3 linked regions of the Homo sapiens genome follow. The protein of the gene in region 1 purifies or fractionates together with the protein of each later gene. This does not show direct contact. Each region holds a gene or a part of one and is shown on either strand. Other genes may lie near its edges.

The links.
Region 2: the proteins of RBFOX2 (region 1) and PUM1 purify together in Homo sapiens (affinity purification with mass spectrometry; 3 studies listed by BioGRID and IntAct, with this or other methods). This does not show direct contact.
Region 3: the proteins of RBFOX2 (region 1) and EIF4G3 purify together in Homo sapiens (affinity purification with mass spectrometry; 3 studies listed by BioGRID and IntAct, with this or other methods). This does not show direct contact.

The regions. Positions count from the first base shown.
Region 1 is NC_000022.11:35,763,215-35,766,868, reverse strand, and holds part of RBFOX2 (RNA binding protein fox-1 homolog 2), read left to right. Parts: intron 1-1,385; coding exon 1,386-1,446; intron 1,447-3,654. UniProt on the Homo sapiens protein: RNA-binding protein that regulates alternative splicing events by binding to 5'-UGCAUGU-3' elements. Prevents binding of U2AF2 to the 3'-splice site.
Region 2 is NC_000001.11:30,968,078-30,971,731, reverse strand, and holds part of PUM1 (pumilio homolog 1), read left to right. Parts: intron 1-3,239; coding exon 3,240-3,378; intron 3,379-3,494; exon of another isoform or gene 3,495-3,569; intron 3,570-3,654. UniProt on the Homo sapiens protein: Sequence-specific RNA-binding protein that acts as a post-transcriptional repressor by binding the 3'-UTR of mRNA targets.
Region 3 is NC_000001.11:21,170,244-21,173,897, reverse strand, and holds part of EIF4G3 (eukaryotic translation initiation factor 4 gamma 3), read left to right. Parts: intron 1-3,654. UniProt on the Homo sapiens protein: Component of the protein complex eIF4F, which is involved in the recognition of the mRNA cap, ATP-dependent unwinding of 5'-terminal secondary structure and recruitment of mRNA to the ribosome. Functional homolog of EIF4G1.

The sequences.
Region 1 (3,654 bases):
CGCAGCTGTTGGTCTCTTTTGCTGACTGGTGGTTTCTGATTGGTTCTGGCCATTTTTCCTTTTAAGTGCTTGGTTGCTTTCTGCTCCAGCAGCTGGTTTCAGCTCTTGCTCCATTCTAATCCTTGTCTGTGAGAACCTTGCTTTTCAGTTTCTCCCCTCTTTCCAAAATTGATTGTTTTTTCTTTCTTTTATTTGTGTGTGTGTGTTTTTTAACTGCATGCTCTCAGTCTCATCATTGTTGTATCCCATTCTTTCTTTTTAAATGTGAAACGTTTATATTATTTGGTGGGCGAAGCTAGAGTAAATGGAGTTTCAAGCTCTTTCCTCATATGGGGGATTATCACTGTACAAATCTTAAAAGACATAGGAAGAGGTTTTTTTTTTAGTTCTAATTCTACCTAAAATTGGTCTTTTCATAACAAAAATTTATTACCATACAAATTGAACACAATGTAAATTTGAAGAGGCAAAAATAAGACATTTATATTTTATGCTTCTTTTTTCAATTGGCATGTTTTATGACCTGACAACACAGTATAAGTCAAGTTCTATGGTGGAGCTTTACCCTCCTTGCAAGAGCTTTGAGACTGGTTCTGTCACTGGGCTGCAGTATGCTGACATCTTAGTTCCATTCATCTTTTCTTCAGCAGCAGCATCTTTGTAACACCTACTTACTCTAGCACTGAGAATGCTTTAAAATATGCAGTTCTGTAATGAGGGTGGAGAGTACCATAAAACAAAATAAATAAACACTTTATTTTCTCAATTCTTTTAAGTGCCTACTTTAAAGGCTTTCTTAAAAGCTTTGTTCTTAAATTGATAGACCATGTAGTCTAGAAAATTCAGAATGGTCCTGAAGGCTGTCAGCAGGGGAATCTTAGGTTTCTATATTTGTTTACTTACCTCAGACAGTAAAAATCTCTGACAGACATATTTAAAATGCTGAACATTAGGACAGGTGAAATCAGATTTATTTTATCACCTTTCCATCAATCTATTTCATAACCCATGTGGCAAGCCTCTGTTTTATTAACAGACTTCAAAGTGAATTGCTAATATAGTTTCCTATTTACTTTTTTCTGTGTTTTCCTTAGTGCAGAGATTTCTCTGTTAAAAAGATGTCCAAAGATCTTGCAAATGTATTTTCTTTGGAGTACTGATATTTGGAAACCAAGAAACTCACTTTACTCTTGTTATCCTCATTTGATAAGAACTTTAATTAAAATACTATATATTAATATTTTATATTGCTGTGTTAATTATTTAAATCACTGCTCTCAGAAATTTACATTTTAAACTAAATACTCTGTTATTGGATGTGCAACTTTATGTTCCCTAATGTGGTCCACTTCTTCCCTGCCCTTTTTTCTCCTTGTTATTTTTAGGTGAATAATGCTACAGCACGTGTAATGACCAATAAGAAGATGGTCACACCATATGCAAATGGTAAGAAATTATAATCTTCGAAAGAGTGTTTATTCTTGTGTAAATATATGAAGTTTTTATAAACTTCTAAGAATGTCTTTATTTCCGTCTTAAGACAGTTTGATTTGTGTTGAAGTAGTCTCTTTACCTGGGAGAGTATTTTATTTTTACAGAATAACTTTGTCATTACAATTGAGCTAAGTTTTTAGTTATTAAGGTGTTATGTTCTAAGTAATGTTCATCTTTTACACAGTGCAAACATGCTATCTAGTTGCCTATTAACCCAAATTGGATCCCACCTGAGCACCTTCTTTTTCAGCTGCTGTAGCTCTTTCTAATATGTTAGACTTGTCCGTAATACCCCTGGATGCCCACTGACTCTTACTTTTAGTTCTGACTTTCATTCATCTGAGCATAAGTGGAATAAATTAGGAGGATATTTTAATCACTTTTATAATTCTGGACCTGTTGCTCTCCTTAGCCCTAGAGATAACAGCCATGGGTATGGTTGTGTGTGTATCATTTTCTGTTTCATGATTACATATTATATAGTAAGGTTTATAAGTTTTTCTCATTGAGAAGGAAATTTTCTATGAATAATTTGTTACATCAGTTACCAAATTTAATCTAGACTCATGGTCTCTGAATGAGATGGAATATAAATTTAATCTGTAGCCCAGTGGTGGTTTTGCAGACTGTTCTGCAGAGCCAGTTTGGGAGAGAAAAAGGAAACCAAATGGATTGAATTCTGAGGTCTCAGCTGTACTTTAGTCTGAGCAATTAGGGTTCTGCATAAGCTTTTACTAATATCTAGAATAAAGGGGGGAGTTTCTGCTGGAGTTTTTTTTTTTTTTTTTTTGAGACGGAGTCTCGCTTTGTCACCCAGGCTGGAGTGCACTGGCGCAATCAAGGCTCACTGCAAGCTCTGCTTCCCAGGTTCACGCCATTCTCCTGCCCTCAGCCTCCCGAGTAGCTGGGACTACAGGCGCCCGCCACCACACCTGGCTAATTTTTTGTATTTTTAGTAGAGATGGGGTTTCACCGTGTTAGCCAGGATGGTCTCAACCTCCTGACCTCGTGATCCGCCCACCGTGGCCTCCCAAAGTGCTGGGATTACAGGCGTGAGCCACCATGCCTGGCTCTGCTGTTTTTTTAAAAAGTTTGAACCCACTGCTAGAGTATGGCTGTATGTGCTAATAATGTCTTAAATCAAGGAGAAATGTATCCGTATTGACTATATCCCATAAAGTCTTCAATAAATATATTTAGCCCAGCTTTTCACATAGATGATACAAATTTATCAGCATAATTTGCATTTTTCCTTACTCCTTTTATCGGTATGATACCACTGCCTCCCACTTTACCTCTTATTTTCTTTTCACTGCTCTTACAAAAACAAGTCTCTACAATTTTGATAAAAACTCAAAGTAAACAAAATAGAAAGGAGAGGCAAAGAATGTCAAATTTTCTTTACATCTAAGGGAAATATTGTGACAGAAAGAGCCTCTGACTGGAATTCAGAAAACAGACGTTCTCCTTCTAGGTTTGACTCTTTATTTACTCCGTGACAGTGGACCAGTTTTTTAACCTAATTCTGTTTTCATATTTATAAATTGAGACCACAGATTTTTGGCACCAGGATTTTTTAAGAAATTATTGAAACTCAACCCTCCCAGCTTATTATTAGGAAATGAGACCCAGAAAAGTATAGTATTGACCTCAGATTGCAGATGTGGTATCTATTTTACCTTCCTCTTTGGGTTTTGTGAAGGTCAAAGGGCATCTGTGAAAATACATTGTAAATTTTCTAAAACTAAATATATTCAAAGTATTACTAACAACATGTCAATATACATCCATTATATTGATTTTTGTTTTTGTTTTGAGGCAGAGTCTCTCTGTCACCTAGGCTGGAGTACAGTGGTGCGATCTCAGCTCACTGCAACCTCCACTTCCCGGGTTCAAGCGATACTCGTGCCTCAGCCTCCAGAGTAGCTGGGATTACAGGTGTGTGCCACCACATCCGGCTAATTTTTGTATTTTTAGTAGAGACGAGGTTTTGCCATGTTGGCCAGGCTGGTCTCGAGCTCCTAGACTCAGGTGATCCCTCCGCCTCAGCCTCCCAAAGTGCTGGGATTACAGGCTTGAGCTACGGTGCCTGCCCATTATGTGGATTTAAAGGGAATGCTCAGGCAATAGTGGCATTGGTAGGAAAGAAAAAGGTTATTT
Region 2 (3,654 bases), on another chromosome or scaffold:
CTTCTTGTTTTATGAAATAGAATTTCATAATTGAGAGGAAATCGATTGAGGAAATACAATTTGTGTGCCCAGGGTCACACAAATACAAAGTTGTTAAGATTTGAACATAAGCCTCTGTCTTGACAACTTTTCTTCTGACCATATTGTGATGTCTTGACTTAAAGAAAATCTGAGATCTTGTGTTTCTTCTGCCGTTAACTAGCTTACAACTAGGGCAAGTTGGATGGCTTCTCTAAATGCATATATTTTTGTTATAAAATGGACATAATAATCATTAACTTTTCAGTTTTCTGTCATTCCCTACAGGTTCTGTCAAACCCTACTAAGAAGTTTTTAGCATTAGTTTTTAATTAGCAGCCATTGTTTTAGTTCCTTTTTTTTGGGTGCCAGTTTCTGATTTTAAGTATTTGAGGAAAATATGATTTTTTTGGTAAACTGCCTTGTCATAGTAATTAAAATGAGAGGTTCTTTTTAAACTTTGCTGTTGGCCTTTTGGGCCCTTGTATTTTATCAGAAAGTATATGTTGCGTTCTAGTCAAGCTGACTGTTCTAGGATAGTTTTTATAAATTCAGTCATTTTGTGATTTATTAGACTTTAAAATGTTACTTGTGAAACTGTATATTTTGTTTCCATAAAATCATGGATTTGACAGCTATTGATGAAATGAAAATATATGAATTTTGGCAGATAACTGAAGGACTTTTATTTGTAGTTAGGGGTACTGGACAGATTTCTAGAGAGTGGACAAAAAGCTAACACTGTTTTCCTTCCTTATTACAAGACTCATCAATAGTCTTAGACTACCTCTTTAGGTACCTTGTCCACTCTACCACACCTGCCCTTTCACAGAACACCTAATCAAACATAAACCTACTTCTTTATATTCTGTGAAAGCAATGCTTTCATTGTTTTTTAAAATCTTCAGCAATTTTGAACTATTAGCATTTGCCATATTTCTGTGCTTGCTATTTACTTATCCTAGAGTGAGATCTCTTCTGAGTTATTGGGTATGTAAATTCTAAGTATTTGGCAAAAATGCTTGCTATTTACTTATCCTAGAGTGAGATCTCTTTTGAGTTATTGGGTATGTAAATTCTAAGTATTTGGTAAAACTCACCTGTACAGCCCCCCGACTCTTCTATCTACGTAGTTTGAAACACACTTTCTCTTACAAAGTTGGTTAGGTTCTTTAGGTCAGAAACAAATTATATAATATCTTGATAATAGTGATTTGCTATTGGTTATTGATGATCTCCTGGGTATCAGGCAGTGTGGCTTAAACACATTATTTGAGATATTTCCAGCAAATCTGCAAGATCATTTGTTAATTCTTACTTATTACTGATATAGAAGTAAAAGATTGGGCAAATTAAGTGTCCACACATCCCTTCTTGCCAGTGTGGACAGTGTTGGTCACCTTATACTCACTTAACAAATATTTAATTGGTTATTAGTGTTGCTTCTCTTTTTACATTTTTTTTTTACCACTGGTACCAAGAATAATTTGTACCCATTTTCTTGACCATATGTCTAACTTTTATAAATAACACAGTGAAATTGAAAGTGATCTGATAAGAACTGTACACTTGACAATATGACAAAACACATTGTTAGGAACTGTAGTAATTTTAGCCTTGGTTTGTGGGTTTTGCATTTTTGCTTGCTGGAGTGTGTAGATCTTGTGAGATAGATTCTTCACATCATTCAGAATAATAATGATTGCTAGCATTTTGATGTCTGTGTTTCATTAATAAAAAGTAGATCCTTGACTGGGCTCAGTGGCTTCACACTTGTAATCCCAACACTTTGGCAGGCCAAGGCAGGTGGATTGCTTGTGCCCAGGAGTTAGAGATTAGCCTGAACAACATGGTGAGACCCTGTCTCTACAAAAAATAGAAAAATTAGCCAGGTGTGGTGGTGCATACCTGTAGTACCAGCTACTCAGGAGAGGTGGGAGCATCTCTTCAGCCTGGGATGCAGGGGTTACAGTGAGCTGAGACTGTGCCACACTACACTCCAGCCTGAGCAGCAGAGCATGGCCCTGTCTCTTCCCTGCACTCCGCGCCACCCGCCGCCCACCAAAAAAAAAAAAGTAGATCCTTTATCAGAGTGGCATAACTGGTATTCTGCACTGAACTTGACTAATGCGTATGTTTGTGGAATTTCTGAGAGGGAAATAGAAATAGTCAGGTGAGAGCCCTACCAAATCGAATCTGGTGAACTCATTTGGGGCCATGTGGACCTTGATAAATATATTAGTGTTAAAGAGGAAATATTCTCATTCCATCTTTTGTGTGCATGTGAGACTCAGTTGACTTTAAATGTGTGGGTAAATTACCCCTGTTCATCTTGTCTGGAACCCCTCCCAACCCCCATTAATACTCTTTTTTTTTCTTTTTTTTTTTTTTTTTTTTGTGTGTGTGTTTTGAAATGGAGTTTTGCTCTTTTTCCCAGGCTGGAGCGAAGTGTCTCGATCTCAGCTCACTGCAACCTCCGCCTCCCAGGTTCAAGTGATTCTCCTGCCTCATCCTCTCTCGTAGCTGGGATTATAGGCACCTGCTGCCACGCCTGGCTAATTTTTGTAGTTTTAGTAGAGACGGGGTTTTGCCATGTTGGCCAGGCTGGTCTCGAACTCCTGACCTCTGATAATCCACCTGCCTCGGCCTCCCAAAGTGCTAGGATTACAGGCGTGAGCCACCACGCCTGGCCTGTTACACTCTTTTTTTTTCTTCACCCACTTTTTGTCAGAGCACTGACATTATATAGTATGGTTTATTGTCTGTCTCATTCGTTAAAATAAAAGCTCCATGAGGACAGGGGCTTTGTCGGTCTTGTTCATTGCTCTGTCTCACTTGCCCATTTGCCACATGGTAGGCATTAAATATTTGATAACACTACCACTTGCTGATGCCAGATATTCCAAATTCATCTTTTAACTTAATTGTCACAAGAACTTTATGAGGCAGATGAGATAAAATGTTTGAATGAATGAATCATCACTTTTGTGTGCTTTTTGCTGCTTATAGAGATAATGTGTTTAAAGTAAGAATGGTAGAATGAAATTCCACTCTATGAAATGTTATTAATTGAATTTATACGCTAACAGCTGTGACATATAAAAACCATTATAGGGAAACAATTTACAATTAAGTTTTAAAAGTTGACCCAACCTGAGCATAGGGTAGGTCTTCTCCAATGAAAAGAAAGTGGTTGAGTTATTTCTGTCTTCCTTTCCCAGGTTCTCCGTGGAGGAGCCAGCCAACGTCCTTTGACCCCAAACCAGAACCAGCAGGGACAGCAAACGGATCCCCTTGTGGCAGCTGCAGCAGTGAATTCTGCCCTTGCATTTGGACAAGGTCTGGCAGCAGGCATGCCAGGTGCGGCTGCATTGTTATTCCTAATACTTTGGCAGGGAAAAAGGCTGCACGTTTGAGGTGATTACAGAGGGGAATGAGCAGTGCTTTCACCTTGCTTAGGCTTGTCATGATTTGGGGACTGGCAAGGATGATACACACTTGCCCTCACTTAGACTATAGTTCACTGATGAGAGCATTGTTCTGAGCCAGTCTTAAGTCATATTGGAGGTATCTAAATGTCCATGCAGCTTGGAATATGTGGTTTTTCCTTGGTGGATTATCTGTTTTCTGTTTCAG
Region 3 (3,654 bases), on another chromosome or scaffold:
TTTTCTACCCTGAGGGAGTATGGGAATTTGTATTTGACGCAAGTGGTCATTGTTCAATAAGTGGATAACATTTAAGCATCTTGGCAGGAGTGCATAGCTGGAGTTAGCACTGTTCATGGCTTGAATAGATCTCCAGACCCTCAAAGTATGTGGGTATAGTTGTGTTTGCATTGAATTAATAAGTTCAGACAGTTTTATTTATTTATTTTTGAGACAGAGTCTTGCTTTGTCGCCCAGGCTGGAGTGCAGTGGTGTAATCTCGGCTCACTGCAACCTACGCCGGCTGGATTCCAGCCATTCTCATGCCTCAGCCTCCTGAGTAGCTGGGATTACAGGCGTGTGCCACCAGGTCCAGGTAATTTTTTGTAAGGCGTGATCAGACTGGGTTTCACCATGTTGACCAGGCTGGTCTCGAACTCCTGGCTTCAGGTGATCCGCCTGCCTCAGCCTCCCAAAGTGCTGGGATTACAGGCATTGAGCCACCGCACCTGGCCCTGATCTGGTGAAACCTGGTCTCTACTAAAAGTACAAAAATTAGCCGGGCGTGGTGGCGCCTGCCTGTAATTTCAGCTACTCAGGAGGCCAAGGCAGGAGAATCGCTTGAACCCACGAGGCAGAAGTTGCAATGAGCCGAGACTGCACCACTGCGCTCCAGCCTGGGTTACAGAGTGAGACTCCACCTCAAAAAAAACAAAATCAAAGGTCTTCTAGAAAATGTTTGGAACCCACGTCTTTTTTTTTTTTTTTTTTTTTTTTTTTTGAGATTGAGTCTCGCTCTGTTGCCAGGCTGGAGTATAGTGGCATGATCTTGGCTCACTGCAACCTCCGCCTCTTGGGTTCAAACGATTCCCCTACCTCAGCCTCCTGAGTAGTTGGGACTACAGGTGTGCGCCACCATGCCTGGCTAATTTTTTGTATTTTAGTAGAGACGGGGTTTCACTGTGTTGGCCAGGATGGTCTTGATCTCCTGACCTTGTGATCCGCCTGCTTCTACCTCCCAAAGTGCTGGGATTACAGGCGTGAGCCACTGCACCCGGCCGAGAACCACATCTTAAGTCAATGGAGAGGATTCCTGTAATCCCAGCACTTTGGGAGGCCGAGGTGGGCAGATCATGAGATCAGGAGATCGAGACCATCCTGGCTAACACGGTGAAACCCCGTCTCTACTAAAAATACATAAAATTAGCCAGGCGTGGTGGCAGGCGCCTGTAGTCCCAGCTACTTGGTAGGCTGAGGCAGGAGAATGGCGTGAACCCGCGAGGCGGAGATTGCAGTGAGCCGAGATCGCTCTACTGCACTCCAACCTGGGTGACAGCGAGACTCCATCTCAATAAATAAATAAATAAATAAATAGGATTGCCACATTTTGCCATTTATATTGAGGCTTCAATAGATGTGGCAAGTTTATGAATTCATTAATTCAGCATCCACTGTGTGCTGCTACACTCAGTGCTAGATGTAGGATTGAAGAGCTAAGGTAGAAATCTTTGCCCTCAAAGAACTTGGTCCTTTTGGTTAGAGGTGGGTAAACAAAACGTCATGAGGCAAGTACAGTGATAACTGATAACTCTGCTGTGAGAGTAGTCTGGGGAAGGAGGAATTAAGGCTTTCTAAAAGAAGTTGACATCTCAGCTAAATTAGAAGAATGAGTAAGAATTAACCCAGGTTTACATAGCTTTCTCTTCTGCCGGCCTGCTTTTTCCAATTCCATTGCTGCTCCATAGAATTTTAATAAATGGATTTCAGTCACGTTTCAGGCTTTTTTTTTTTTTTTTTTTTGCTAGAGGAGGTACCAGAGAAAGTGACAGTCAAACACAAGCTAAAAATTCAAAGTATTTTCTGTATCATAATCTAAGGAATTAGTGTATGAGAAGGAGATACATACCTGATCTGATCTGTGGTGGGTCTTTTCCTGGTCTCCTTCCCAGTGCATCTCGTAATATCCTTGCCCTTTTAATACTAGACTTTGGCTTAGAAACAGTACTTGCTAGTCTTAAAATAGAAGTAGATTTACCTTGGTGTATTGAGAAGTGTACCTGATTTGGAGGCAAAAAATCTGGTTTTGAGTTTGGCTCTTTCATTGTAGTAGATATCTTATCTTAGACTAACCATGCAACTGCTTCAGGCATTGGTTATCCCTTCTCTGAAATGTAGGGTCTAGACTCATTTATTCAGTGACCTTCTTGAATTATAATTGCTTATGATTGTCTTTTGAGATTTGTGTTATTCTTGCAAGTGGAGAGGAGGGATTTACAGAAACCAGTTAATGTTTTCTTTGTCTGATGGTAAGTGACATGTTCTGTGGTGGCTTATTGATATTAGAAGATACTAACATGGGGCAGAGGCAGAGGCAAAGCAGCAGTTTGCTCATATAAGCTACTTCTGGTTTTTGGCTTGTTAATGTTAGATTCAGCCACAGAGACAGAAGCACCTCTCTAACTTCAGTGGTGAAGACTGTATAGTTAGTTGTGAGATAGTGGGAGACCATAAAATAAGGTTGCCATGGTCATTTGCTGGCTTGTTCTGGGTGATGATACAGTTAGTTCATTATGAGATATGAGGGAAAGTAAGTTCTGGAATAAACTCCCGTGGTGCTGTGGTGAGACACAATCTATTTTTACCTAAGGAATAATACTTTGAGCTAATATAATAGGAAAGTAACTAGTTCCTGATTATTAGCCACGCATATGACTTTAAGCAATGGATAAACTGCAGCTGAGACTTACACGGATGAGATATTGCAGGATCCCAAGCGACTTCTGAATTCTCAAATGGCTTCCAGTTCTTTGGCTTGCTGCCAACCAAAGGAATTTTTCAATCTCCTGTAGCTCAGCTGAAATTTGAGAAAGTTAAACTATTTTAAGTGCATTTGAAATTTGTTGGTTTTTACGACTTTTTTTTTTTTTAATTTATTTTTTTAGACAGGGACTTGCTCTGTCACCCAGGCTGGAGTGTGATCTTGGCTCACTGCAACCTCTGCTTCCTGGGTTCAAGTGATTCTCATGCCTCAGCCTCCCAAGTAGCTGGGATTACAGGTGTGTACCACCACACCTAGCTAATTTTTGTATTTTTAGTAGAGATGGATTTTGCCATGTTGGCCAGGCTGCTCTTGAACTCCTGACTTCAAATGATCCATCCACCTTGACCTCCCCAAGTGCTGGGATTACGGGTGTTAGCTACTATGCTCTACCATGATCTTTATTAACTAATAATTGTTTTGTACTTTTTTTTGAGACAGAGTCTCTGTCGCCCAGGCTGGAGTGCAGTGGCGCAGTCTCGGCTCACTGCATCCTCCACCTCCTGGGTTCAAGTGATTCTCCTGCCTTAGCTTCCTGAGTAGCTGGGATTACAGGTGCGCGCCATCACACCCATCTAATTTTTGTATGTGGGGTACAGGTGGGGTTTTACCATGTTGGCCAGGCTGTTCTCGAACTCCTGACCTCAAGTGATCCACCCATCTCAGCCTCCCAAAGTGCTGGGATTACAGGCATGAGCCACCACACCTGGCCTGTTGTGTACTTTTTTGAGCCCACTGTGTGCTGCCTGACTTTATAAGACATTGAATTTTGTTAATAGAATGTAAACTCCATGAAGGCAGAGATTTTTGTTTATTTTGTTCACTGTGGAATTGCTAGCACCTAGAATACTGCTTGA